4 linked regions of the Homo sapiens genome follow. The protein of the gene in region 1 purifies or fractionates together with the protein of each later gene. This does not show direct contact. Each region holds a gene or a part of one and is shown on either strand. Other genes may lie near its edges. The genes, in order: ARMC6, METTL9, SLC27A2 and DDX19B.

Region 1 (7,027 bases):
AGGGGCTCCCTGTGGGGGTGCCAGCAGGGGCAAGAATGCAGCCAGAGCCAGGAGGGATGGGAGCCCCAAGGGAGAAGGCTGTGGGGTCCCTCCCTCCCCCACCAAGCCCACCAGGCAGCATGTGGCACCTCACTGCACAGACGTGGCCTGTGATGACAGCCTTGTGTGACAACGGCCTCACTACCACTCTGCTCCCTTTGGCCCACGGACCAGTGGCAGAAACACCCAATACCCTCTACACCCCCGTGATGATGTGGCATGGGCGGGAATAGGGAGGTGGGAGGCTTCTGGAGTGGGGTGGTCCCAGCAGAAGGGTCCTGAGGTGTGATTCCAGCAGGCCCACGGGGATGACAGCTGTCACTTTCTTTCTGACCCCTGTGTGCTTGCTTCCCCCACCCCCAACAGGGGTTGATCTGAGCAACATTGTAAAGACGGCACCTAAAGTCTCTGCAGACGGATCCCAGGAGCCCACACATGACATCCTGCAGGTAGGAGTGGGCATCCCACACAGCAGGTCCTGCGTCACCTCTGTCTGGGGGCACCTCTTCCCTGTTTCCTGGATGGCAGAATACAGGCTCTGAAGGTCATGCCCTCCCCAGCATGCATGGGCAAGCTTGAGTTTGCAGCCAGGTCTCCCTGAGTCCATGTCCGAGGGCGGCATGCCTTCCAATGCAGGGGATCCCAGGCTCCTGTGGTGGCATGTATGCTGAAATCAGGTAGATGGCTTGGTTGTCCCTGCTGCTGGGATCCCAGAGTCAGGGACACCATAGAGGTGCCCCTCTGGCTTCCCAGAGACAGATGGTCAGGACTCATAGGACGAGAGAGTGGGCTCACAGTAAGGCTGTCACTTACTGAGCACTGACTGTTTACCAGCACTTTCCAGCCAGTCCGTTAGCACTGAAGCTCACCAGTGAAGTAGGTGGTGTCATTCCTGTCTTAGTGATGGGGAAACAGGCCAGGAGCTGGCACTTAACCTCTCCAGAGACCGAAAGAAGGAAGGTAAAAGAACTTCAATGCTTTCCGTAAGGTCGCCCATCAAACTTTGTAATACAGCAGAAGGCTCCGGTGTTTGAGAACCGACTGTGGGCCTGGTTCTGTGCAGGTACTTTTTTCCTGTCTTCTTGGTCACTGTCCAAACAACACCTGCAAGGCTGGGATTTCCCCATTGTAGAGATGGGGACATTGAGATCCAAAGAGAAGAGAAGTCATTGACATGGGAGCAGGAGGTGCAGTGATAGGAGAGGAAGTTGGAAGAGACGGCTCTGGGTGTAAACCCGGCTTGCCTAAGGCATGACACTTACTTCTCCCTACCTCGGGGTCCTGCCCTCTCCTGCCTTGAGGAGGTCTTGTGAAAATTGCCTCGTTGTTGTTAGTTTGCTTTTTGCCTTTCTTGCCTAATAAGGATGAATTTATTTTATTATATATATATTTATTTATCTATTGAGACAGAGTCTCACTCTGTTGCCCAGGCTGGTGTGCACTGGCGTGATCTCAGCTCACTGCAACTTCCACCTCCCAGATTCAAGTGATTCTCCTGCCTCAGCCTCCCGAGTAACTGGGATTACAGACACACGCCACCACACCTGACTAATTTTTTTGTGTTTGTAGTAGAGACGAAGTTTCACTATGTTGGCCAGGCTGGTCTCGAACTCCTGACCTCAGGTTATCTGCCCGCGTTGGCCTCCCAAAGTGCCGGGATTACAGGCATGGGCCACAGTGCCCAGCCTGGATGAATTTATTTTAAAATGAGTTTGTCTTCTGGCTATCTTTGCATTGGGTGATTCATCTTTTTCCTACTGATTTGTAGATGAAGTTTATATAGGAAGGATCTCAATAACAATATCGTCTATATTGTCTAGCAGTTACTGCTTAAGTACTTCTTAAGTGCTCAGCATTATGCTAAATTCTTTTTTTTTTTGAGACAAGAGTCTCACTCTGTTGCCCAGGCTGGAGTACACTGGCGCAGTCTTGGCTCACTGCAACCTCTGCCTCTTGGGTTCAAGCAATTCTCCTGCCTCAGCCTCACAAGTAGCTGGGATTACAGGTGCACACCACCATGCCCAGCTAATTTTTTTTTTTTTTTGAGACAGAGTCTCGCTCTGTCACCCAGGCTGGAGTGCAGTGGCGTGATCTTGGCTCACTGCAAGCTCTGCCTCCTGGGCTCACGCCATTCTCCTGCCTCAGCCTCCCGAGTAGCTGGGACTACAGGCGCCCGCCACCATGCCTGGCTAATTTTTTGTATTTTTAGTAGAGACGAGGTTTCACCATGTTAGCCAGGATGGTCTCCATCTCCTGACCTCGTGATCCGTCTGCCTCGGACTCTCAAAGTGCTGGGATTACAGGCGTGAGCCACTATGCCCGGCCTATTATGCTAAATTCTTAAAATATGTTCTCTTAATCTGTGCTCAGCCCATCTTGCTGGTGAGGTATCTGAGGCTTCCCAAGGATCAGTGACCACGCCCCTGCACCCCGAAAGGTCAGCTGGTGAGAGGCAGAGCTGGTACCCGGATCCAGGAAGCAAAGCACTGAAAGGCCGTTCTACCAGCAGTACAGGAAACTCCGTGTTTGTTTATAACATTCGCTCCTTTTTTTTTCTTAACTGTTCTTTTATTTATTCATTTATTTATTGAGACAGAGTCTCGCTCTGTCGCCCAGGCTGGAGTGCAGTGGCGTGATCTTGGCTCACTGCAAGCTCCACCTCCCAGGTTCATGCCATTCTCCTGCCTCAGCCTCTGGAGTAGCTGAGACTACAGGCGCCTGCCATGACGCCCGGCTAATTTTTTGTATTTTTTAGTAGAGATGGGGTTTCACTGTGTTAGCCAGGATGATCTCGATCTCCTGACCTTGTGATCCGCCTGCCTCGGCCTCCCAAAGTGCTGGGATTACAGGTGTGAGCCACCACGCCCAGCCTATTTATTTATTTTTTGAGATGGAGTCTCACTCTGTTGGCCAGGCTGGAGTGTAGTGGCCCTTCCTCAGCTCACTGCAGCTTCCTTCTCCCAGGTTCATGCAATTTTCCTGCCTCAGCCTCCCGAGTAGCTGGGATTACAGGCGTGCACCACCACGCCCAGCGGATTTTTGTATTTTTAGTAGAGATGGGATTTCACCACATTGGACAGGCTGGTCTTGAACTCCTGACCTCAAGTGATCTGCCTGCCTCGGCCTCCCAAAGTGTTGGGGTTATAGGCATGAGCCACTATGCCCAGCCTATTTTTTGTTTTGTAGAGATGGGATCTTGCTATATTGCCCAGGATGATCTTGAACACCTGCCCTCAAGTGACCCTCCCACTTTGCCCTGCCAACATGCCAGGATTACAGGTGTGAGCCAACATGCTCACCTGTTTTTTTTTTTTTTTCTTTTTCTATTTCTTTTTTTTTTTTTTTTGACACAAACTCTCACTCTGTCACCCATGCTAGAGTGCAATGGCAGGATCTCGGCTCATTGCAACCTCCACCTCCCAGGTTCAAGTGATGCTCCTGTCTCAGCCTCCTGAGTAGCTGGGATTACAGGTACCTGCCACCATGCCTGGCTAATTTTAAATTTTATTTTTCATTAAGGAAGAGTGGAAATACATTCTTAGCATAAAGGATTCAAGCAATACTCAAGCATTTATAGTAAAATCTGAAAGTCCCTGCCTTGTCCCTCCCACCAGACACTGGGGTTTGCATCTCAGCGGTCAGTTCGCAACTGAACCAACCCCCTTCTCAAATGCCCTGCAGCATAATTGACCTTTGTGCATCTTGGCTTAGATGTGTAAAAAATGCTTATCTGTTGAGGGAGAAAAAAATTCAACATTGTGATGGTCGTTGAAATTAATCTGTTTGTGTCATAAGATTTGTTGCAAACAGGCTTGTAGAAACAGAAGGAAAATAATGTCTGGAGACTGTCCAGGGAAAAACTGAGCCAGCCAGGCCACATTTATATGTGGGAAGTTGTAGAATGAAAGGCATTAGTCACAGAGACTGAATGACTCCAGGAGTCAATGGGTAAAGCCCCCCTCCATGAGCAAGGTGGTGAGCGCCACAGAAAATTGTCATAGGTAGAACACAGCTGGCTCTGCCACCTGCATTTTAGCAACCATCTGTCAATGAAAATACTCTATAAAATATTTCAAGAGATTTATTCGGAACCAAATATGAGTGACCAAAGGCCCATGACACAGCCTCGGGAGCTCCTGAGAACATGTGTCCAAGGTGGTCGGGCTACAGCTTGGTTTTATACGTTTTAGGGAGACATGAGATATCAATCAATACATGTGAGACGTACATTGGTGTGGTCTGGAAAAGTAGGGCAGCTGAAAGCCGGGGCTTCCAGGTCATAGACACATTTAAAGATTTTTCTGGCCAGGTGCTGTGGCTCACGTCTGTAATTTCAGCATTTTGGGAGGCTGAGGTGGTCGGATTGCATCGAGCTGAGGAGTTTGGGACCAGCCTGGCCAACATGGCAAAACCCATCTCTACAAAAAATACAAAAATTAGGCCACGTGTGGTGGCTCACACCTGTAATCCCAGCACTTTGGGAGCCCAGGCAGGTGGATCACCTGAGGTCAGGTGTTCGAGACCAGCCTGGCCAACATGATGAAACCCCGTCTCTACTAAAAATACAAAAATTAACCGGGCATGGTGGCAGGTGCCTGTAACTCCAGCTACTCAGGAGGCTGAGGTAGGAGAATTGCTTGAACCCGGGAGGCAGAGGTTGCAGTGAGCCAAGATTGCACCATTGCACTCCAGCCTTGGTAACAAGAGCGAAATTGCATCTCAAAAAAACAAAAAACAAAAAACAAAAATTAGCTGGGCATGGTAGTGGGTGCTTATAATCCCAGCTACTTGGGAGGCTAAGGCGGGAGAATCACTTGAATCCAGGAGGCGGAGGTTGCAGTAAGCCGAGATCATGCCACTGTACTCCAGCCTGGGCAACAGAATGAGACTCAGAAAAAAAAAAAAAAGATTTTCTGATTGAAAGAGTTATCTAAAGACCTAGAATCAATAGAAAGGAATATTTTGCTTAAGACGGGTTGTGGAGATCAAGGGTTTATCAAGGAAGCCTCCAGGTAGCAGGCTTCAGAGAAAATAGATTGTAAATATTTCTTATCAGACTTAAAAAGGTGCCAGACTCTTAGTTAATTCTCTCCTGAATCAGGGAAAAGACCTGGAAAGGGAATCTCTGTAGAATGTAGCTTTTCCCCACAAGAGATAGCTTTGCAGGGCCATTTCAAAATATGTCAGAGAAATATATTTTAGGGTAAAATACTTTGATTTCTTTCCATACTGTATTAGTTAGGCTGGAACTTGGTGTCTTATTGCTACAAAAAAGTCTTACGATGATCAGTTATGTCTGACTTCCAAAGGCAGGAAGATAAAATGAGACATATTTGACCGCCACTTCCCATCATGACCTGAAGTAGTTTTTCAGGTTACCTTTGGAATACCTTTGGCCAAGAGGAGGGGTCCTTAGTATGGATGAGGACTTAGATTTTTTTTTTTTTTTTTTTTTGAGACAGGGTCTCCCCAGCTAGAGTGCAGTGGTGTGATCTTAGCTCACTGAAACCTCTGCTTCCCGGGCTCAAGCAATTCTTCAGCCTCAGCCTCCCATGTAGCTGACTACATGGTGTGAGCCACCAACATCTGGCTAATTTTTGTATTTTTTTTAGAGACAGGGTTTTACCACGTTGCCCAGGCTGGTCTTGAACTCCTGAGCTCAAAGCGATACACCTGCCTTGGCCTCCCAAAGTGAAGAGATTACAGGCATGAGCCACCATGCCCGGCCAAGAATTTTATTTTTAGTTTACACATCCTTGCTAACTTAGTAATTCCTTGTGAAATCTTGGTAGTTCTAACTCCAATACTGTGCATCCTCAAAGGCATTTCTGTCAGGAGCTTTTCAAGTTTCTTACAGGGTTTCTGCTGAAGTGCTACACCGCTGTTTGTTATGTAAAATGTGCATAAAAACATTTACCATTGTAACCATTTTTAAATGTAGAGTTCAGTGTCATTAAGTACATTCATAATGTTGTGCAACCATCATGACTATCCATGACTTGCGATACTGAAACAAACTCCATGTTCCTCTTCCCCTCAGCCTCTAGCAACCATCATTCTACCTTCTGTTGCTGCAAATTTGACTACTCCAGGACCTCATATAAATGGAATCACAGGCTGGCCACCCTGGCTTATGCCTGTAATCCCAGCATTTTGGGAGGCTGAGGTGGGCAGATCACTTTGAGGTCAGGAGTTAGAGACCAGCCTGGCCAACATGGTGAAACCCTGTCTCCACTAAAAATACAAAAATTATCCGGGCGTGGTGGCACATGCCTGTAGTCCCAGCTGCTCAGGAGGCTGAAGCGGGAGGATTGTTTGAACCCAGGAGGTGGAGGTTGCAGTGAGCTGAGATGGTACCACTCCACTCCAGCCTGGGTGACAGAGGAAGACTCCATCTAAAAAAAAAAATTTTTTTTAAATAAATGGAATCACAGTATTTGTCTTTTGGTGACTGTCTTATTTCACTTAGCGTAATGTCCTCAAGGTATATCCATAGCATACTATGTGCCTGAATTTCTTTGTTGTCATTGTAGTGTTTTTTTGTTTGTTTGTTTTTCTTTTTGGAGACAGAGTCTCTCTCTGTCGCCCAGGCTGGAGTGCAATGGCACGAGCTCAGCTCCCTGCAACCTCCAACCTCTTGGCTCTGATGAATCATGCTGCTATGAACATGGGTGTACAGGTATCTCTTTGAGACTGTGCTTTCAGTTCTCTTGAGTGTATCCCCAGAAGTGGAACTGATGGGTCACACAGTAATTCTGTTTGATTTTCTTTTTTGAGATGAATGCTCCGTATGTTGCCCAGGCGAGTCTTGAACTCCTGGGATCAAGTGATCCTCCTGCCTTGGCCTCCCAAAATGCTGGGATTACAGGCATGAGCCACCACGCCTGGCTTCTCTGTAGGTTTGAATTGCATTTTTCCTAATGATTAGTGACATTGAGCATCTTTTCATGTATTAGTGGCCATTTGTATGTATTCTTTGTAGTAATGT
Region 2 (7,027 bases), on another chromosome or scaffold:
TTTTAAATGGTTACCAAGAAAATATCAAAATAACATTTTGTAATACATGAAGTTTCATTTATGGAATTCAAATTTATTTCAGTGTCTACAAATAAAGTGTTTTTTTTTTGAGATGGAGTCTCGCTTCGTCACCCAGGCTGGAGCGCAGTGGCCCAATTTTGGTTCACTGCAACCTCTGCCTCCCAGGTTCAAGCAATTCTGATGTCTCAGCCTCCCGAGTAGCTGGGATTACAGGTGAACACCACCACGCCCAGATAATTTTTGTAGTTTTCAGTAGAGATGGGGTTTCACTATGTTGGTTAGGCTGGTCTCAAACTCCTGACCTCAAGTGATCCTTCTTCCTGGGCCTCCCAAAGTGCTGGGATTACAGGCGTGAGGTACTACACCCAGCCCACAAATAAAGTTTTATTGAAAGAGAACTACCACATTCATTTACCTGTGGTCTATGAGCTCCCTGGCTACAATAGCAGCATATTTGCTACTGTATGGCCTGCAAGCCTAAAACATTTACTACGTGGCTTCTTACAGAATAAAGACTTTTTCCAAGAGAAATTCCCAGCTTCCTTAACAAACAGCTTTTTTTTTTTTTTGGAGACAGGGTCTCACTGTGTCACCCAGGCTGGAGTGTAGTGGCACAATCTCAGCTCACTGCATCCTCGACCTCCTGGGTTCAAGCGGTTCTCATGCCTCAGCCTCTCCATAGCTGGGATTACAGGCACGTGCCAGCACACCTGGTTAATTTTTGTAGTTTTAGTAGAGACAGGGCTTCACCATGTTGGCCAGGCTGGTCTTGAACTCCTGGCCTCAAGTGATCTTCCCACATCGGCTTCCCAAAGTGCTGGAATTACAGGAGTGAGCCACTGCAACCAGCCTCCAACAGCATATTCTTAATCACAGGTTGCAGGGTGGGTAGATTGACTCACTGGGAAGAAATAGAGGCAGGCAGTGAGAAACTAGTAGATATTGTCACTTTGCAATGTTGGCAGACTCAGAATTTAAAAAGACAACAACAAAAAACTTAGGATCTATTCTTTTTGATGCATTGCACCTAGTGCTTAAAGTTAATGCAACTATTATGGAGCTACTGAAACTTTGAAAGGACCCTTAGGCCCCAGGTTCTTGGTAATAATAGCGGTTCAGTAGCTTCTCAATTGATGGAGTGAAAAAATTGTTATAGAACTCGCTGAACCAAACCACAACGATTTCTCCGGGTGACATACTGCAAGGTTTTTTAAAAGCACAGATAACATTCAATATCTGGAATTATTAAGTTGTAACTTAAAATTGCAAGTATGTGTATATTTTTGTGACTTATTTTTTCACTTTCTTATATAAGCTCAGAACTGCGCTATGCCACAAGTGATGAAGAATTCAAGAAAGAATTAAAATCCTTTTTTTTCCCCCAAATGAAAAAATACTTGGACAGCATAGCCAGAGCCAAACACTGTGCTAAAGGACAGAGTGTTTCCTGTCCCTTTACCCCTCACTTACCCTGTGGAGGCAGACTGGAGTCAGGCATGAGTTAACAATGCTTCAAGGATAGTCAGCCAGCTAAGCCGGACAGACACTGATGGATTGGCGTCCTTCTCTGAACTGCCTTCGAGAGTCTGGAGGCCTTTGCAGCTGAATACCAAAGAGACTTCAGAAAGGATTTCTTTGCTTCCTCATAATCTGTGTTGAAACCCCAAGTGTTTGCTTCAGTTTCACAGAACACTAGAATCTCTTTCTTGTGCTGGATATACCAGGAGTCTTTATGTTTCTCTTTGAAGGTGCCCTAGAAGACCCTAATAGCTTCCAGTAAAAAGCTCTGTTGTGTAGACCCTCTGAAGCTTTGTTAAAATTTTAGGATTATCCTGTCCTATGGGGAGTGAGTATTTAGTATTTGCAATGAGGATTGCCAGTAATTGGTTATTAAATCAAAGCTGAAGCCATTTAATCTGTTTTAATTGATTCCCCTCATGGATATGAGGGTGCCTGTCACTGTACACATTGAAATCTCACATAAAGAGGTTATTGGGTTGAGTTTATATTGTTTGTGGGAAAATGGTGAATGGTCTGAATATTTACGCCTATGCTGTGCTTAAATGCAAGGTGTGCATGGTGAAATGTCTGGACTGAGTTGACTGCATTGTAAAATCTTAGAATGTGAATTTTGAATCCTTAGCTGTCAAGCTCTGTTGATGGAGTTGGTCTGGCCAACTTAGAAAAGATTCTGTGTTCATAGATCCTGAGCAGTGGAGCTTTTCTGATTGTTTTTGGTAGCCCTGAATGCCTTGGGTCTTTGATTACCCATTTCTTTTGAGAATGGCTGGATGCCTAGACCTACAGTTTGGTTTTTAGGCATTCCCTTGAACTGTACTTCTCCTCTGACCAGCCCTTGCCTTGGAGAGAAAGGGGAAGGAAATATGAAGAGCTACTGGCCTTCTATTGTGTGCCAGGCACTTCAAATATATTATCCCCAGTAGTCCACATAGAACTCTTGGAGGTTGGTGGTATCATCCGCACTTTACATACAGAAAAGTGAGGGTGAGAGAGAGAAGAGACTTGCTCACCAGCACAGAGTTAATGGATGATAGAGTTGGGCTTTGCACCCAGCTTTGGTTTCAAGGCAACACATTTTCTGCTGCTTTATGATGCCCCTCCTGGTAAACCTTGTGTTGTCTGAGGGGTGGTAAAAATAGGCTTGCCTTCTTTTTTTTTTTTTTTTTTTTTTTTTTTTTTTTTTTTTTTGAGAAACAAGTTCTTACTCTGTCACCCAAGTTGGAATGCAGTGGCCTGATCATATCTCACTGCAGCCTCAAACTCCTGGCCTCAGTACATCCTCCTGCCTCGGCCTCCTGAGTAGCTTCTAAATCTTTTGTAGAGGCAGGGTCTTGCCATGTTGTTCAGGCTGGTCTCAAACTCCTGGCCTCAAGCAGTCCTCCTGCCTCAGTCTCCCAAAGTGCTGGGATTACAGGCGTGAGCCACTGCTCCTGGCCTAGGCTTGCCTTCTGAATAGGAAACTGCCCTCATTCTAGTGAGGCCTCTGTGTAGACACTGAAGTTAGGTAGCTGTGTGCACAATACTTGTTGAAGATTTTGTAGTTTGTGAATTAGATGAGAATAAGACAGCTGCTTGAAGTTCTGGCCTTTATCTGGTTTGTGCATGCTTTTTTTAAGGCTTAAAGTTGAAAAAAGATTCTTACATGTATTGTCATTTTTTCCTGACATCAGCCATTCTCTAATTTTCCATCACCAAGTGGGTGTTTAATTGTTCAATCCTGTTCTGACATTAACTACCTGGAGTTAGGGTCACGCTTTACAGAGTTAAGAGCTCAGTCCCACAAGACTGCCCTCACTTCAGAGGCCAGCTGGAAGTCCTGGGTTCCCAGGCTGCCAGTGCTTTTGTCCACCTTGAACAAATTTGGGAGTTCCCACAACTCTACCTTCACCCTACCCCACCCCACCCCCTAATTTCCTATAATAGAATGACTCATAGAACTTAGGAAAACACAGGTGCGGTGGCTCACGCCTGTAATCCCGGCACTATGGGAGGCTGAGGTGGGTGGATCACGAGGTCAGGAGATCAAGACCATCCCGGCTAACAGGGTGAAACCTGGTCTCTACTAAAAATACAAAAAAATTAGCTGGGCGTGGTGGCACGTGCCTGTAATCCCAGCTACTGGGGAGGCTGAGGCAGGAGAATCGCTTGAACCGTGGAGGCGGAGGTTGCAGTGAGCTGAGATTGCGCCACTGCACTCCAGCCTGAGCGACAGAGCGAGACTCCGTCTCAAAATAATAATAATAATAATAATAAACCACTTAGGTTTACTGGTTTATTACAAAGGATACAATTGGGGAACGGCCAAGTGGAAGAGGTGCATAGGGTGAGGTGTGGGAGGTGGTGTAGAGTTTCTCTTTCCTCTGATGAGCCACCCAACCATCATATCAATGTATTCAGCAAACTAAAAGCTCCCAGGACCCCATAGTTTAGGGGTGTCATTACATAGGCATGATTAGACTCAGTCTTCAACTCCTTTCTCATCCTTGGAGATTGGAAGGTGGGGCTGAAAGTTTGAACCTTATACCCACATCCTGGTCCCCATCCTGAAGCTGTCTGGGTCTCCCACCCCTATCAGGAGTCATCCTGTTAGCATACAAAAGATACTCTTATTACCCTGAGATTCCCGAAGGGTTTTAGGAACTCTCTATCAGGAACCTGGGACAAAGATCAAATATGTATTTTTTATTATACCACATCATCTAAAATCAGTCAGTTTTTAAAATTACTTTCTGACTCTGCTAGTGTGCTTAAATCCTTTGTATTTTGGGAATGTTGTATTTTGGATATGTTGTATATCACATGTTTGATTAGTTGATAAACTCCAAAAATAATTTCAGAAAAACTTTTAACCATATTTGGTCTGATTAGCAAATCTAATTTTATAGGAAAATTGCATTCCTACTTTGAACGAGTGATTCATCAACCAAGGTTATATATAAATATTAGGAGGAGTTCATGGGCTTAATGAGAAATTTTTTTTTTTTTTTTGACAGTCTTGCTTTGTCGCCCAGGCTGGAGTGCAGTGGCACACTCTGGGCTCACTACAACCTCTGCCTCTCTGGTTCAAGTGATTCTTTTGCCTTAGCCTCCCAAGTAGCTGGAATTATAGGTTCCTGCCACCACGCCTGGCTAATTTTTGTATTTTTAGTAGAGACGGGGTTTCACCATGTTGGCCAGGCTGGTCTTGAACTCTTGACTTCAAGTGATCTGCCCACCTGGGCCTCCAAATTGCTGGGATTACAGGTGTGAGCCATCGTAGCCAGCCAGGAAATTTTTAAGACAGTATGACCTAATATTTAATAACTTCGGTTGGCGAATACTGTCAGACATGCATTCAAAACGCGTGGCAGCCACCTGATTTGGCTGTTTACTGCCTGGCCAATTATTAGTATCTTTGCAGTTGTGTTGCCAGTAGGGAGAATATTGCTATTTACTGTAATTTTTAGATATCACATCCTGTTCTGTACTTGGCATCAGCAGATGACTGAATGGAATCATTCTCATTTGATTAGAATTTGTCATTTAAAAGATTCCCTTGTTTATTTAGATGAAACAACATTTGAGTGAGCTTTAAAGGCAGATGCTAATAAGATGCTTTTTCAGACATGGTAGGCTCCAGCCAAGGAGTCCAGCCTCACAGTAGAGTGGGCGTGTAGTCCTGTCAGTGTGTGAATTTAACGGGCATAGTACTTTGTTCTTGCCTGTGCACCTTTGTCTCTGTAGTCTTTAAGGAGCACACATTTAAAGAACTCACCTGCGGCTGGGCGCAGCGGCTCACGCCTGTAATCCTAGCACTTTGCGAGGCCGAGGCAGGCAGATCACCTGAGGTCAGGAGATCAAGACCAGCCTGGCCAACATGGTGAAACCCCATCTCTACTAAAAATACAAAAATTAGCCAGGCGGGGTGGTAGGTGCCTGTAATCCCAGCTGCTTGGGAGGCTCAGGCGAGAGAATCACTTGAACCCGGCAGGCAGAGGTTGCAGAGAGCCTAGATCACACCACTGCACTCCATCCTGGGCGACAGAGCAAGACTCCGTCTCAAAAAAAACAAAGAACTCACCTGCTTGAAAGTACACAGGAGCATACAGACAAGCCACCCAGTGCTGCGAGCTTAGCGTAGCTTTTTATCTAAGCTGGTTGTTTGGAGAGAGGTGAAACCAGGAGTCCTGCCCATTGGGTTAAAGGGGTTCCTGCAGATTTTTTCTCTCCTTGGTCCTTGGTATTTCACCTTAAGGGCAAGGTGACTGCTCCTTTAAGGCTCTGAAGCTCCTCGCCAAGATCATAGTCACATTACTTGTTTCCCTTGGTTTCTGATTTTATTTTCACTCTGGAATGTAAGTTCTCTGAGGCCAGCGAGTCCATCTTTTAATTCAGTCAGCTGGAGTCCCTAGACCATAGTTAGGCTGGGATAGTGGGAAACACTACTGGAGAGTCAGTACAGTGACATTTTGTGGGTAAGGCCATGTATGGGTTCTCAAGCAGTGGCAGTTTTGCCTCCCAGGGGACATTTGGCAATGCCTGGGACATTTTGGGCTGTCATTTGGGGTAGTGCCACTGTAACCTGATGGATAGGCACTAGGAATGCTGCTGAACATCCTACAATGTGCAGGTCAGCCCCTATAACAAAGGATCATTTAGCTCCAAATGTCAGTAGTGTGAAGGCTGAGAAACCCTGGCTTACAGGACTTTAGTTACTATCTAGACCAGATTATCTTTTCTCTACACACATGTAGTTCAGTTTAATTGGCAGGATAGTCCTGCTTTCTTTTCTTTAGCAGACACACTGGGTAGAGTTAAGTGAAGAGAAGCTTCTTTGAAAGAAACGCTTATAAAACAACACGTACCTGGAGCAGGAGCTTGAATCAGCTGGAGCTGCTTAGGGACCCTATGCTTCCCATTTATTCAGAAATTGCAAGGTGGTAAATGAAATGTAAAGCACATGGCTTGGTGCCTGGTGCATGATAGGTGCTCAGTTGGTGTCTTCCTTCATTGCTTGCTTCCTTGCTTGTGGTAATGCAATTTTGTGGTGAGTGGGTAGCTGTAACCACTGGTTGCAAAATTAGGTTTAAGCAAGGCCTTGCAGAGTTTGAGAAATTGACAGAAACCCCATGGCAGCGATCTCTGTGGTTATCCTTATGTTTCCTCTAGGATTTTGTTAGAAACTCCAAATTCTGTTTAGGCTGCCTGTTGATGAACATTTATTGTTTGTCTGTATCTGTGCCAGGCACTGAAGCCATTCATTTTCTCTGCCTTTATGAAGCTCTCAGTCTACCTGGGAAGATAGGCACTGAACATGCGATTGTCTACAATTATTCAATTCAGAGATTGTAAATATTACCAAAGGGACAAATGGGATGTATGAAAGGGTATTAGAACAGGGGGCCTAGCCTAGCCTTTCGTAGGTATATTTTCCTTTGAAAAGAAAATATACCTAGGAAATATTTAGGCTGAAGTTGAACGAACCAGGTGAAGAGAGAGTGGGTTA
Region 3 (7,027 bases), on another chromosome or scaffold:
AACTTTGTTACAATGCATGTTTTCACAGTCAAATAGAAAACCCCTTTTATTGGGAGGCCGAGGCAGGCAGATCACGAGGTCAGGAGATCAAGACCATGCTGGCTAACATGGTGAAACCCCATCTCTACTAAAAGTACAAAAAATTAGCCAGGTGTGGTAGCGGGCACCTGTAGTCCCAGCTACTCAGGAGGCTGAAGCAGGAGAATGGCATGCATGAACCAGGGAGGCGGAGCTTGCAGTGAGCCGAGATTGCGCCACTGCACTCCAGCCTGGGCGACAGAGCGAGACTCTGTCTTAAAAAAAAAAAAAAAGAAAGAAAAAAAAAGAAAACCCCTTTTAGGGAGAAAAAAGAGAATGAGCATCCTCTGATTTAATCTCGTAAGTCAGAATTTATATTTAATTGGAAGACAATTAGAAGGGTGTTTATTTTACTTTTTTCATTTTCTCTGAATCAAATATTTGCTAGGCCAAGCACAGTGGCTCACATCTACAATCTCAGAACTTTGGGAGGCCAAGGCAGGAGGATTACTTGAGCCCAGGAGTTTGAGACCAGGCTGGGCAACATAGCGAGACCACATCTTTACAAAAACATTAAAAAATTAGCTGGCATAGTGGTACACCTTGTAGTCCTAGCTACTTGGGAGACTGAGGTGGGAGGATCACTTGAGCCCAGGAGTCTGAGGCTACAGTGACGTGCCACTACACCCCATGCTGGGTGACAGAGCAAGGCACTGTCTGTAGAAAAAAAATAGTGCTAAGTTACTCTTGTAAACATTAATTAAAAGAATTTGTTTAAACAGTTGGAGAATAAATGTTCCTGCTCCTCAAAGGAAGTCATTAGCACAAAATTATATAATAGTTACCAGATATTCTCATTTATTCATTAATACAAAATCTTAATTTAGGAAAGTTCTGAAAGTACTTCAAGGCAACAAAGATGAGCATTTCTTTTTAAAAATTTCAGAGGCCAGGCATGATGGCTCATATCTATAATCTCAACACTTTGGGGCCAAGATGGGAGGCTCACTTGAAGCCAAGAGTTCAACATCAGTCTGGGCAATAAAGCAAGACCTTGTCTCTACAAAAAATATAAATAAACAGCCAGGCATGGTGGTGCACACCTGTGGTCCCAGATACCTGGGGGGCTGAGACAGGAGGATCACTTGACCTGAGGCTGTGGTGAGCCTTGAACACCACTACACTCCAGCCTGGCAACAGAGTGAAAGCCTATCTCAAAAATAATAATAATAATAATAATAATACATAAAACAAAACAAAAAACTGGGCCATTGTCAAAGAAAATGAATTTTGAATTGTGTTTACAATAATGGTAGGTTGCTAGCCATATTTGTCTGCCTTGTAACAAGTTGCTGCTATTTGGGCACTATCTGGTGAAGGTACCACCAAGTATTGAAGAATCTGAGTCAACAGAGATCTGTCTTCCTCTTCACGAAGTCTGTTTACCCACTCAGATCTTAAACTCTTAGTCCCCTTCCCAGTGACTTCATGCCCTCCCCAATTGAACTGTTCTTCCATGGGAAACAACATAAGCATACACTTACAGAAGAAAATCTTACAAAAAACGTATATAAATTATGGTTAAGAAAGTGCAAGCGCATTTAGTCTAATGTACTAAAACTACACTGAGATACGGTTTTTCACCTTTCAGACTGGCAAAGGCCCCAACATTTAAGAGCACACATTGACAAGGCTAGGAGGAAACAGGCACACTCATGTATTGCTGATAGGAGAATGAATGGGGACAGCCCTTATAACTGGCAATGTGGAAGTTATCTATCAAAATTACAAAGACTCTTACTCTTTTTTTGAGACAGAAACTCATTCTGTTGCCCAGGCTGGAGTACAGTGGCAGGATCAGGGCTCACTGTAGCCTCAACCTCCTGGGCTCAGGCGATCATCCCACCCAAGTAGCTAGGACTACAGGTGCATACCGCCACACCCAGCTAATTTGTTTTACTTTTTGTAGAGGAGGGGTCTCACTATGTTGCCCAGACTGGTGCTGAACTCCTGGGCTCAAGCGATCCTCCTGCCTCAGCCTCCCAAATTGCTGGGATTACAGGACTGGCCAACTTTTATCTTTTGACACAACAATCTCACTTCAGTGAATTTATCCAAAAGATATGGTGTCATTCATAGTGTGAATTGCCACGTGGACGAGCTTCTTCACTGCAGCATCATTTATAACAGCAAATAGTATAAATAAATTATAATACACTTATAAAAGGACTTGAAGGAGCTGAGAAAGAGAATAAATAAATGAATAAATAAGGGAAATCTTTATGTACAAACATGAACAAATCTCCAGTAAACATTGTTAAGCAGCAGAGACAAAAAACATGCAAAAGAGTGTGCATATTTCTTTTTTTTTTTTGAGATGGAGTCTTGCTCTGTCACCCAGGCTGGAGTGCAGTGGCGCTATCTCGGCTCACTGCAACCTTTGCCTCCCAGGTTCATGCCATTCTCCTACCTCAGCCTCCTGAGTAGCTAGGACTATAGGCACCCACCACCACGCCCGGCTAATTTTTTGTATTTTTAGTAGAGACGGGGTTTCACCATGTTAGCCAGGATGGTCTTGATCTCCTGACCTTGTGATCCGCCCGCCTCAGCCTCCCAAAGTGTTAGGATTACAGGCGTGAGCCACCGCGCCTGGCCAAGTGTGCATATTTTTTAATGGAAAAGGCAAGAACATATAAGCAAATGTTCATATTTGCTTTGTTTGTATAAAATAACTCTAGTACGTAAGAAATCTCTCTGACTCTCAGCCTTCACATCTGTGGATTGGAGAATATAATTCTGTTTATGTCATATATAAACTTGTTATGGATTTTTAAAATGTCTTGCAAAGTGGTAGCCACAGGGCAGAAATTCAATGGACAGTCATTCCTCTGTTTCTGTTTCTCTTCAGATTACTACTGTCATAACCATCTAACTCAGGAGTTAGCAATCTATGGCTTGTGGGCCAAATACAGCCTCCCACCTGTTTTTGTAAATAAAGTTTTATTGGAACACAGCCACACTCCATTTATGTATGTGTATGGCTGCTTTTGACTACAATAGCAGAGTTCAGTTGTTGCAACAGAGATTGTATGACCCACAATCCCAAAACATTTACTCCCTGGTCCTTTATAGAAAACATTTGTCAACTCCTGGACTAACTGGTCATGGCCCTTCCCAGTGCAATTCTCAAAATACAGGGTGATGAATCTTCCTAAGCCAGATCTCTCTCCTACACTGTAAATGCCCAATCTTGGTTAACTCATGCCTTCTCTTGTATATTTACAAAGGTCTTCCAAAAGCAGCCATGATCACTCATCAGCGCATATGGTATGGAACTGGCCTCACTTTTGTAAGCGGATTGAAGGCAGATGATGTCATCTATATCACTCTGCCCTTTTACCACAGTGCTGCACTACTGATTGGCATTCACGGATGTATTGTGGCTGGTAAGCTTTTTCTACAAAATGTTGGAGGCGAGTGCACATTTACATTTTCCCAGAAGGAACAGTAATACAAAATTTGGCTACGTTGCTGTCTGCTAGGAACAGTTTTCAATTTTGCATTAACAATAAGGCAATTTGAATCACATATTACAAGCAAGCATCTAAAATAATCTGTTTTTCATGCCTGCCTATCTAATAATGTAATGCTATAATTGTTCAGTATATCAAGAGACAAACTCCTTTAAAATATTTTAGGGCTGGGTGCAATGGCTCACACCTGTATTCCCAGCACTTTGGGAGGCCAAGGCAGGAGGATTGCTTGAGGCCAGGAGTTCAAGACCAGCCTGGGCAACATAGCAAACCTCATCTCTAAAAAAAATATATATATATATATATATAGCCAGGCATGGTGGCTCAAGTCTGTAGTCCCAGCTACCCAGGAGGCTGAAGTAGAAGAATTGCTTGAGTCCAAGAGTTCAAGATTGCAGTGAGCTGTGATTGCACCACTGCACTCCAGCCTGGGTGACAGAGTGAGACCTTGACTGTAAAAAAAAAAATTTTAGGTTATGACACTTGAGTCTTAGATTCTATGTCATGTCATTTCCATCTTTAGAAACTTGCATGTTAATCTCCATCAGCTTTAAACTTCTGCAGTTGTGTGCACTCTTCTGTAATCTCCCATTTCCACAGCTTTTCAGCTCTACTAGAAGGAGAGAAGATGGCAACTCCATCAGAATACTTGGCTTGGCTTGGCTTGCCATCTCTTCTGTTTCCTTCTCAGACTTTACTATTCAAATTGGAGTTGCCATCCTCTCTCCTTCCAGGAGGATTCATGTCACTTGTATACATTACCGCAAAGTTCAATAGCCAACTCTTCCAGGAAGCTATATGTAACTTTCTGACTGAGCTAAATAAACAACTTTTTCTCTCATGTGGCATTTCATTTTAAATAATCATATATGTATATATAAAAATATATACACATATGTATATACACACACATATATGCGTGTGTGTATATGCATGCATGTTATGGATGGATATTTGTGTCCCCCAAAAATGTATATGTTGAAATCCTAACCCCCAATATGATGGTATTAGCAGGTAGGGCCTTTGGGAAGTAATTGGGTCATGAGAGTAGTGCCTTCATGAAAGGTAGTGCCCTTATCAGAACAGGAGACAGCCAGCTTCTTTCCTGACTCTGTTCTGTTCCATGTAAGGACACAGGGAGATGATGACCATCCCCAAACCAGGAAAAATGCCCTCACCAGACACCAGACACCTTGATCGGGACTTCCCAGCCTCCAGAACTGCAAGAGATAAATGTTGTTTAAGCCACCCATCTGTACTATTTTGTTATAGCAGCTCAAACACACACACATACACACACACACACACAATCCAAAAATTTGAAATCCAAAATGCTCCAAAATCTGTAACTTTTTAAGCACCAGGACACCACAAGTGGAAAATACTACACATAAGTACTTAACACAAACTTTGTTTTATGCACAAAGTTATTTAAAATATTGCATGAATGGGCCAGGCACAGTGGCTTATGCCTGTAATCCCAGCACTTTGGGAGGTTGAGGTGGGCGAATCACTTGAGGTCAGGAGTTTGAGACTAGCCTGGTCAACGTGGCAAAACCCCATCCCTTCTTAAAAAATACAAAAATTAGCCAGGCATGATGGTGTCCACCTGTAATCCCAGCTACTTAGAGGCTGAGGCACGAGAACCCACAAGGCAGAGGTTGCAGTGAGCCAAGATTTCACCACTGAACTCCAGCCTGGGCAATAGAGTGAGACCCGGGCCAGGTACGGTGGCTCACGCCTGTAATCTCAGCACTTTGGGAGGCCAAGGGGTACAGATCACGAGGTCAGGAGATTGAGACCATCCTGGCTAACACAGTGAAACCCCTTCTCTACTAAAAATACAAAAAATTTGCCAGGTGTGGTGGCACGCGCCTGTAATCCCAGCTACTCAGGAGGCTGAGGCAGGAGAATCACTTGAACCTGGGGGGCGGGTGTTGCAGTGAGTCGAGATGGCACCACTGCACTCCAGCCTGGGTGACAGAGCGAGACTCTGTCTCAAAAAAAGAAAAAAAAATAGAGCAAGACTCTGTCTCAAATATATATATATAAAATACATATATATGTATGTGTGTGTGTATATATATAATATATATGTATGTGTGTGTATATATATGTATGTGTGTATATATATATACTTGAGACAGAGTCTCACTCTATTTATACATATATTTAGTATATATATAATATAATATATATATATATTGCATGAAATCTCTTTCCCTCTCCCCTCCCTCCCTCTTAGGACTTCATTTGAATCTCTTACTGCAAGCTAACTTTTATTAAAATGACCTTTGTATGAGTCTTCTCCTCCATAGATTGGAAGCCCCTATCGAACAAAACCATGTCTTACTAATTTTTTGCATTTGAATATAAGGTACTCAATACTTGTTTGCAAATATAATTTATTTTTAAATTTCTACCGTTCAAAGTTGACAAATTAAACATAACTGGGAGAATTTTTTCCACCATTTCTTTCTTGACACTTTCTGTGCTTTCTCTGTAGGTGCTACTCTTGCCTTGCGGACTAAATTTTCAGCCAGCCAGTTTTGGGATGACTGCAGAAAATACAACGTCACTGTCATTCAGTATATCGGTGAACTGCTTCGGTATTTATGCAACTCACCACAGGTAACACTCCCCCCGTTTTACTATCATTTTGAAATGGGTAAGATGGAAATTCAAGTCACTTTGGGTTGTGCTAGGCTTCAACTGATTTGCATATATCAGTTTTGAGTTTAGGATACAATTATCATGATAAAGTACTTGGCACTATACCTACCATATAGAGGGGACTTAGTAGGTGGGAGTTAATATTATTATTATGATGATGATTATTTCCTGCCTTTTTACTTGTTTTCACATCTTACTCCCCACCTAGCATATCCTGCATTTCCCCCTCTGCTTACTAAAAGCCAGTGTCAAAGCCCAGTTCAAATGATACCTCATACATTAAACATATTTGGGTCACTCCAACAAAAGTCATTACTCTTCTCCCCTACGTCATTTTATTTCTACCCTCTGTGGCCCTTGTCATGTTGCAGGAGTTTGTGTTCATGTCTCCCATCCTTCCTTGGCTGTAATATCTTTGATGGCTGGAACCACATCTTGTCTCCTTGTTTTCTGTTATACCGAAGGCATACAGGAAACTTTTACTTAATGCTGTTTAACAAATAAATCTCTGTGTGACTTTGAAACCAGCCAGCCAAGTCTGTCACCAAGCTGGGAACAGATGCCCCAGGGCATCTCCAATGGCCTTGGATCTGCCCTGTTTGCAGATGTTCAGCTCTCGATGGGGTTGTTCTCAAGAGCTCCTCCTGCCCAGTCCCTCAACTCTCATCAGAGATCTGGTATCAGATAGGATTTATCAATGGTGGCACTGCTGACATTTTGGGCTTTTAATTCTTTGCCGCGCGGACTTATTCTGTGCATTGTAGAGTGTTTAGCACCCTTTGGACTTTGCCCACGAGATGCCA
Region 4 (7,223 bases), on another chromosome or scaffold:
TGTAATTCTAGGACTTTGGGAGGCTGAGGCATGCGGATCACTTGAGGTCAGGAGTTCAAGACCAGCCTGGCCAACATGGTGAAACCCCACCTCTACTAAAAATACAAAAAGTAGCCAGGCATGGTGGCACATGCCTGTAATCCCAGCTACTCGGGAGGCTGAGGCAGGAGAATCGCTTGAACTCAAGAAGCAGAGGTTGCAGTGAGCCAAGATCGTGCCATTGCACTCCAGCCTGGCGGACAAGAGCGAAACTTCATTTCAAAAAAAAAAAAAAAATTAAAGGGCCAGTCCAACAGATCCAACATTCATCTAATAAGAGTTCTGGGAAAAGCTATGCAGTGGTGCGCACCTGTAGTCCCAGCTACGAGGGAGGCTGAGGCAGGAGGATCACTTGAGCCCAGGAGTTCAAGGTTGTAGTACACTATGATTCTGCCTGTGAATAGCTACTGCACTCCAAATTGGGCAACATAGACAGACACTGTCTTAAAAAAAAAAAAAAAAGAGAGAGAGAGAAAGAAAGAGAGAAAGTGAGTTCTGGAAAAGAGGGAATTAAGAAAAAACAAAGAAGAAGAAATCAGCAATGAAATTATTCAGGAAAAGTTCTCATAACTGAAGAACAAGAGTTTTTCAGATTGAAAGTACCCACACCCAGGGGCCAGTAATATGGATGAAAATACACCCATACCAAGACATATTACCATAAATTTTCTGAATATTAAAGACAAACAGAAGATTCTCCAAGCTTAGAAAGGGGAAAACAAGTCACATCAAGAATCAGGATGGTCTCAAACATTTCAACAACAAATACAGAAATCTAGAAGGCAATGGAACAATACATTTAAAATTTGGCAGGAAAATAATTTTCAACCTACAATTCTATACCCAGCCAAACTATTATCCAAATTACAGGGCAAAGTTAGATTTTTTAAGACATGGAATATTCTTAAAGTAATTTACTTCCCGTACACCTCCAGAAAGCTGACAGATGGCTGCACTAAAATAAGGAATAAATCAAGAAAGATGGAAAAGTAGGGGTACAGAAAGGAAGGGATCCAAGAGATCCAAAAGACAAGAGAAAGGAGGAAGGAATCTGCAGAATGAGGCTGAAGGGAAATTTGCCCTGTTCCCTCTATTCCCCAATATGAACTGTGCTCTAAAGACAGGAGTAACTAGTCCAATTTGAAGCAGACTTAAAGGCCTAGGAGAAATGGAATTGATAGAATACTTGATGAGTCTAAGCATCCTGAGATAAACTTAGACAACTGGAAGACAGTTTGGGGTTGAATTGATAATTAAGAAAAAAAAATGAAGCATAAACATAAGGCAATTAAGAATTCCAAGTAAAATAAATTTTATAGAAAAGTAAAGGGCCAGGCAAAGTGGCTCAGGCCTATAATCCCAACACTTTGGGAGGCCGAGGTGGGAGGATGGCTTGAGCCCAGCAGGTCAAGACCAACCTGGGTAATATAGTGAGACCTCGTCTTCACAAAAAATTAAAAAGTTAGCTGCATATGTTGGCACATGCTTGTAGTCCCGGTTACTCAGGAAGCTGAGGTGGGAGGATCACTTGAGCCTGGGAAGGGGAGGTTGTAGTTGGCAAGAGATGGTGTCAATGCACTCCAGCCTGGGTGACAGGGCAAGACCCTCTCTCAAAAAATATATGTAAAGAAAGAAAGAAACAGAAAAAAGAGGCTGGATGCAGTGGCTCACACCTGTAATCCCAGCACTTTGGGAGGCTGAGGCAGGTGGATCACTTGCACGCTGGAGTTCGAGACCAGCCTGGGCAACATGGCAAGTCCCCATCTCTACAAAAAAAATACAAAAAGTAGTTGGGCATAGTGGCACATGACTACAGTCCCAGTTACTCAGGAGGCTGAGGTGGGAGGATGGCTTGAGCCTGGGAGGCAGAGACTGCAGTGAGCCAAGATCACTCCACTGCACCCTAGCCTGGGCAACAGAGTGTGACCCTGTCTCCAAAAAAAAAAAAGGAGTTGCCTCTGGGGAGGAAAAAAATTGGCGGGAACCGTTGTTTTTAAAATAACTTCACTCTTTAAACAATGTGTATATACAACTTATTTTTTATGAGCTATAAAAAATAAAAGACAAGGTTCTTATTCTTGAGGAAGTCATAGCAATAAGTACTAACAGAAGTAGGTTCAAAGCCTACTAGGATTTAAAGTGTTTCGGTGGGAGAAATTAATTCTACGCAGTAGTGTTTAACACATCTCTTGCTTACCATGTGTCAGGTCCAGAAAAAAAGAACAAAGTGAAGCCGATGAGGAAAGGATTTGCTGACTGCCACACCTACTGGGTCCATCATTTATCACTGAGGAAGCACACAAATATGAGCAAAGACATGGTCCCTGAGCCAAAGAAGCTCTGAATGTAGAGGTGGAGAATGACACCTAAAATAACTATTACAAACCGGGGCGGCCAGGAACAATGGCTCAGCCTGTAATCCTGGTGCTTTGAAAGGCCGAGGCAGGAAGATAGCTTGAGACCAGGAGTTCCAGACTAGCCTGGGCAACCTAGCAAGACCATGTCTCTATTTCAATTAAAAACAAACAAAACACAATCTAGGGTGATGGGTGCAATCTATGATTCTTCCTGGTTCCAGGAAGACAGACAGGCAGCTGAGCGCTTTACCGATAGGAGCACTCACCTGCGCTTACGTAACGCGGAGGCGGCTGCGTAAACAAAGCCAGCTCAGGGTCCAGGCTCCATCCCTATCCTCCCCGCCACCCCATCCAGCCTCTAATCAACCTGGGAAACATTCTTTCCCAGGGACCAAGTCTCCGACCAGAACTAGTCCCCTGACCCTTTTAGGGCTGAAGCCAACTCACCGACTCAGCCGCAGCTTCCTGCTCGTCCACCGCCAGGGCCCATGAGTCAGTGGCCATGGTCCCAGGCGCGGGTGGGACGCTCGTGCTGGTGGATTCGAGGGATGGCACGAGGGATCGTGGGCTCCGGGGGTTCGCGGCAGGCTCTGCTCCAGCCCCACTACAAGGCTGCAGACCGGAAGCGGCGCGCCACAGTGACGTCGGAGGCCACTCCTGTTTGGCCACCCTTTGCCCACTTGAGGCTGTCGATTCTGTTGCCCTCAGACCCGTACCCCTCAACCCCGGGCAGAGCAAGCTTTCCTATCAAGCTGAGGTAGTTATCTTAAAATGCCTAAGCTCTGGTTAACTTGGATCTCCAACCAAAGAACAAAATCAGATTCCCGCCCAACACAGTGGCAGAGTAGGCACTAATACAGATTGAACAGATTGAATATATCAAAACAGAAAACCATTACCAATAGTCACCAAAATGCAAAACAAGCACAGAGCTGTTTCCCTTTTCAGATTGGTAATTTAAAATGTCCAGATGTTGGCAATCAGCCCTGACAACCCATTTGGTTAAAAGTCCACTTGACCACTATGCAATCTTGTTAGGCATGTAACAAAACTGCACCTGCACTCATAAATTTGTACCCCAAGAGGAGGAATTGCAGCTCTCCTATGTAAGCGTTGTAGAATCAGGAGAATGTTAAAAAGGAAGAAAACAGACGGTGCGGTGGCTCATGCATGTAATCCCAGCACTTCTGGAGGCCGAGGCGGAAGGATCACTTGAGCCCAGGAGGTCTAGGCTGCAGTGAGCCATGACAGGGCCACTGCACTCCAGCCTGGGTGACAGAGCAAAACTCTGTCTAGGAAAAAAATAAATAAAATTAAAATAGTAAAATAATTAAATAGAGCTAGGTGTGGTGGCTCATGCCTGTAATCTCAGCACTTGGGTTTTTGTTTGTTTTTTGAGATTGAGTCTGGCTCTGTCGCCCAGGCTGGAGTGCAGTGGCACGATTTCGGCTCACTGCAACCTCCACCTCCTGGGTTCAAGAAATTCTCTTGCCTCAGCCTCCCAAGTAGCTGGGATTACAAGCATGCGCCACCATGCCCAGCTAGTTTTTCTATTTTTAATAGAGATGGTGTTTCACCATGTTGGCCAGGATGGTCTCAATCTCCTGACCTCGTGATCCGCCTGCCTTGGCCTCCCAAAGTGCTGGGATTACAGGCGTGAGCCACTGCACCCGGCCTTTTGTTTTTTTAAGATAGAGACAGATCTTGCTGTGTTGTCCTGGCTGGTCTCAAACTCCTGAGCTCAAGTGATCCTCCCACCTCCACCTCCCAAAGTGCCAGGATTGGCCAGGCACAGTAGCTCACATGTGTAATCCTAGCATTTTGGGAGGTGGAGGTGGGAGGATCGCTTGAATCCAGGAGTTTGAAAACAACAACATAGCGAGGCCTTATCCTTACACAAGAAAAATTTAAAAATTAGCCAGGTGTCGTCGCACATGCCTGCAGTTCCAGCTACTTGGGAGGCTGAGGTGGGAGGATCACTTGAGCCCAGGAGGTTGAGGCTGCAGTTAGCAGTGTTTGTGTCACTGCACTCTAGTCTGCGCAACAGAGTAAGACTCTGCCTCATAAACAAATAAATAAATAGGAAGAAATATCTTGGGCTTTTAGTAGTTGTAAAATAAGGATTAAATGAAAGAACTGCTTTCTCCTAACTAGAATCAAAGAAGCTTCTCTTCCCTTGTTACTTCCCTAGAAAGAAACTAGGCATTTTCCTACAATCTGAAAAAAATGAATCCCAACCTCTTTCATTTTGCCAATATTATACAACAATAAGTTAATTTCAAGCCATGAGGCCGGGCACAATGGCTCACACCTGTAATCCCAGCACTTTGGGAGGCCAAGGTGGGTGGATCACCTGAGGTCAGGATATCAAGACCAGCTTGGCCAACATGGTGAAACCCTATCTCTACTAAAAATACAAAAATTAGCCAAGCATGGTGGTGCACACCTGTAATCCCAGCTACTTGTAAGCCTGAGGCAGGAGAATCACTAGAACCCGGAAGGCAAAGGTTGCAGTGAGCCGAGATCATGCCATCACACTGCAGCCTGGGCGACGAGTGAAACTCTGTCTCAAAAAAAATAAATAAATAGACTGGGCACGGTGGCTTGCACCTGTAATCCCAGCACTTTGGGAGGCCAAAGCAGGTGGATCACGAGGTCAGGAGATTGAGACCATCCTGACCAACATGGTGAAACCCTGTCTCTACTAAAAATACAAAAATTAGCTGGGTGTGGTGGCATGCACCTGTAGTCCCAGCTACTTGGGAGGCTGAGGCAGGAGAATCGCTTGAACCCGGGAGGTGGAGGTTGCAGTGAGCCAAGATCATGCCACTGCACTCCAGCCTGGACGACAGAGCAAGACTCTGTCTCAAATAAATACATAAATAAAAACAAACAAACAAAAATCAAGCCATGGTGGGTTCTCTGTGGAATTTTACCAGTACTGTAAGAGTAAAAACGTTTTGAGAAAGGGTAAAGCAGTTCCAGAGAACATTCTACTTGCTATGATTATTTTTTCCTGCACTCTCACAGGGTTAACTGGAGAAGACGTTTTTGTTTTTTGTTTTTGACCTTACACATGAGGATGTGCTAAAAAGAAAAAGGCAAACACCACCTTGGTAGCCATGACCTACATCTCATCAATTCAGAAGCAACCCTGGGGATATTTTCCCAGATAAATTATATTGTTTCACAGGGCTAGAGGTTAATGAAATTTGCAAAACATTTTAATGAGGTTAAAAATTACATCGCCCAAGTTGCAGGACCGTATATAGTAGGTTCACTTGTACAAAACAAACAGGAACCCCCACCCCAAAAGCCCCCAAGCTCCCATATATGCTTTTATACACTATGGAAAATGCCTAAGAAGACCGGAGCAGTGGCCTGTGTCTGCAGTCCCAGCTACTCCTGAAGCTGAGGTTGGAGGATCGCCTGAGCTCAGAAGTTCGAAGCCAGCCTGGACAACATAGTGAAACCATCGCCTCTTAAAAAAAAAAAAAATGTGGCCAGGTGCGGTGGCTCACGCCTGTAATCCCAGCAGTTTGGGAGGCCAAGGTGGTGGATCACGAGGTCAGGAGTTCAAGATCAGCCTGGTCAAGATGGTGAAACTCTGTCTCTACTAAAAATACAAAAATCAGCTGAGCATGGTGGTGGGTGCCTGTAATCCCAGCTACTTGGGAGGCTGAGGCAGAGAATTGCTTGAACCCAGGAGGCAGAGGTTGCAGTGAGCTGAGATCATGCCACTGCACTCCAGCCTGGGCAACAGAGCGAGCCTCTGTCTCAAAAAAAAAAAAAAAAATGCTTAAGATACACACAAAACTGATAACCATGGCTGCCCCTGGTGAGGGCCTCTAGAAGGGTGGGGGTGGATTGAGTATGCTTTATCCTCTGAAATTATTTTCCATATGCATGGTTTTTTTTAAATTAGAGACAGGGTCTTGCTATGTTGCCCAGGCTGGAGTGCAGTGGCTATTCACAGGCACCATTACAGCACATACTATATCCTTGAACTCCTGAGTTCAAGAGGTTCACCTGCCTCTGCTTCCCAAGTAGCTGGGACTACAGGTGTGTGCAGCTGTGCTTGGCTCCATGTTTCCCTTTTAAAAATGTATTTCAGACAAACAAGAAAGGGTATAACAAATACTTAGATTCCCACCTCAAAACTTAATAAATAAAATTACTAAGGTCCAATTGATAATCTCCGTATACTCATCCCAGGAAGACAGCAGCTATGCCAAATTTGGTGTTTATCCTTCCCGTACACGATTTTAGCATGTGTTTTTTCTTCTACTAAATAAATATGCAAGCCTGGGCAACATAGGGAGACCCCGTCTCTACCAAAAAAAAAAAAAAATTTTTTTTAAGTAGCTGGGCGTGGTGGCGTGAGCCTGTAGTCCCAGCTACTCCTGAGGCTGAGGTGGGAGGATCACTTGATCCCAGGAGTTCAAGGCTGCAGTGAGTCGTGATCATGCCACTGCACTCCAGCCTGTCTCAAAACAAAACAAAAAACAAAAAAACTTAAAAATAGCATCGGGGTTTCAGACTCTCCTAAGTTCACCCCCAATACACCTGCGCTTTGTGAGACTCCGGCTAAGAAGGAACCTGGTTTCCAAAGCGGGCGTGGAAAGAAGAGTGTTCGGGGAATAAGAGCATCTGGATTGGAATTCAGCCTCCTGCATTTATTCCCACGTGAGCCTAGCCAGTCTCAGTTTCCCCTGAAATCACAGGAAGTACCCACCTCACAGATGGCGGATTCTAGATCACAAGGCTAAGACCTTGGGCCGAAGCCTCGAGAAATATTGTTATTCCTCTACCCAGGAGTAGGGGCGA

What was found.
Region 2: the proteins of ARMC6 (region 1) and METTL9 purify together in Homo sapiens (co-immunoprecipitation; 3 studies listed by BioGRID and IntAct, with this or other methods). This does not show direct contact.
Region 3: the proteins of ARMC6 (region 1) and SLC27A2 purify together in Homo sapiens (affinity purification with mass spectrometry; 3 studies listed by BioGRID and IntAct, with this or other methods). This does not show direct contact.
Region 4: the proteins of ARMC6 (region 1) and DDX19B purify together in Homo sapiens (co-immunoprecipitation; 2 studies listed by BioGRID and IntAct, with this or other methods). This does not show direct contact.

The regions. Positions count from the first base shown.
Region 1 is NC_000019.10:19,043,587-19,050,613, forward strand, and holds part of ARMC6 (armadillo repeat-containing protein 6), read left to right. Parts: intron 1-405; coding exon 406-488; intron 489-7,027.
Region 2 is NC_000016.10:21,602,567-21,609,593, forward strand, and holds part of METTL9 (protein-L-histidine N-pros-methyltransferase isoform 1 precursor), read left to right. Parts: intron 1-7,027. UniProt on the Homo sapiens protein: Protein-histidine N-methyltransferase that specifically catalyzes 1-methylhistidine (pros-methylhistidine) methylation of target proteins.
Region 3 is NC_000015.10:50,199,182-50,206,208, forward strand, and holds part of SLC27A2 (long-chain fatty acid transport protein 2), read left to right. Parts: intron 1-3,305; coding exon 3,306-3,464; intron 3,465-6,057; coding exon 6,058-6,182; intron 6,183-7,027. UniProt on the Homo sapiens protein: Mediates the import of long-chain fatty acids (LCFA) into the cell by facilitating their transport across cell membranes, playing an important role in hepatic fatty acid uptake.
Region 4 is NC_000016.10:70,294,975-70,302,197, reverse strand, and holds the start of DDX19B (ATP-dependent RNA helicase DDX19B), read right to left. Parts: upstream 3,013-7,223; 5' UTR 2,901-3,012; coding exon 2,844-2,900; intron 1-2,843. UniProt on the Homo sapiens protein: ATP-dependent RNA helicase involved in mRNA export from the nucleus.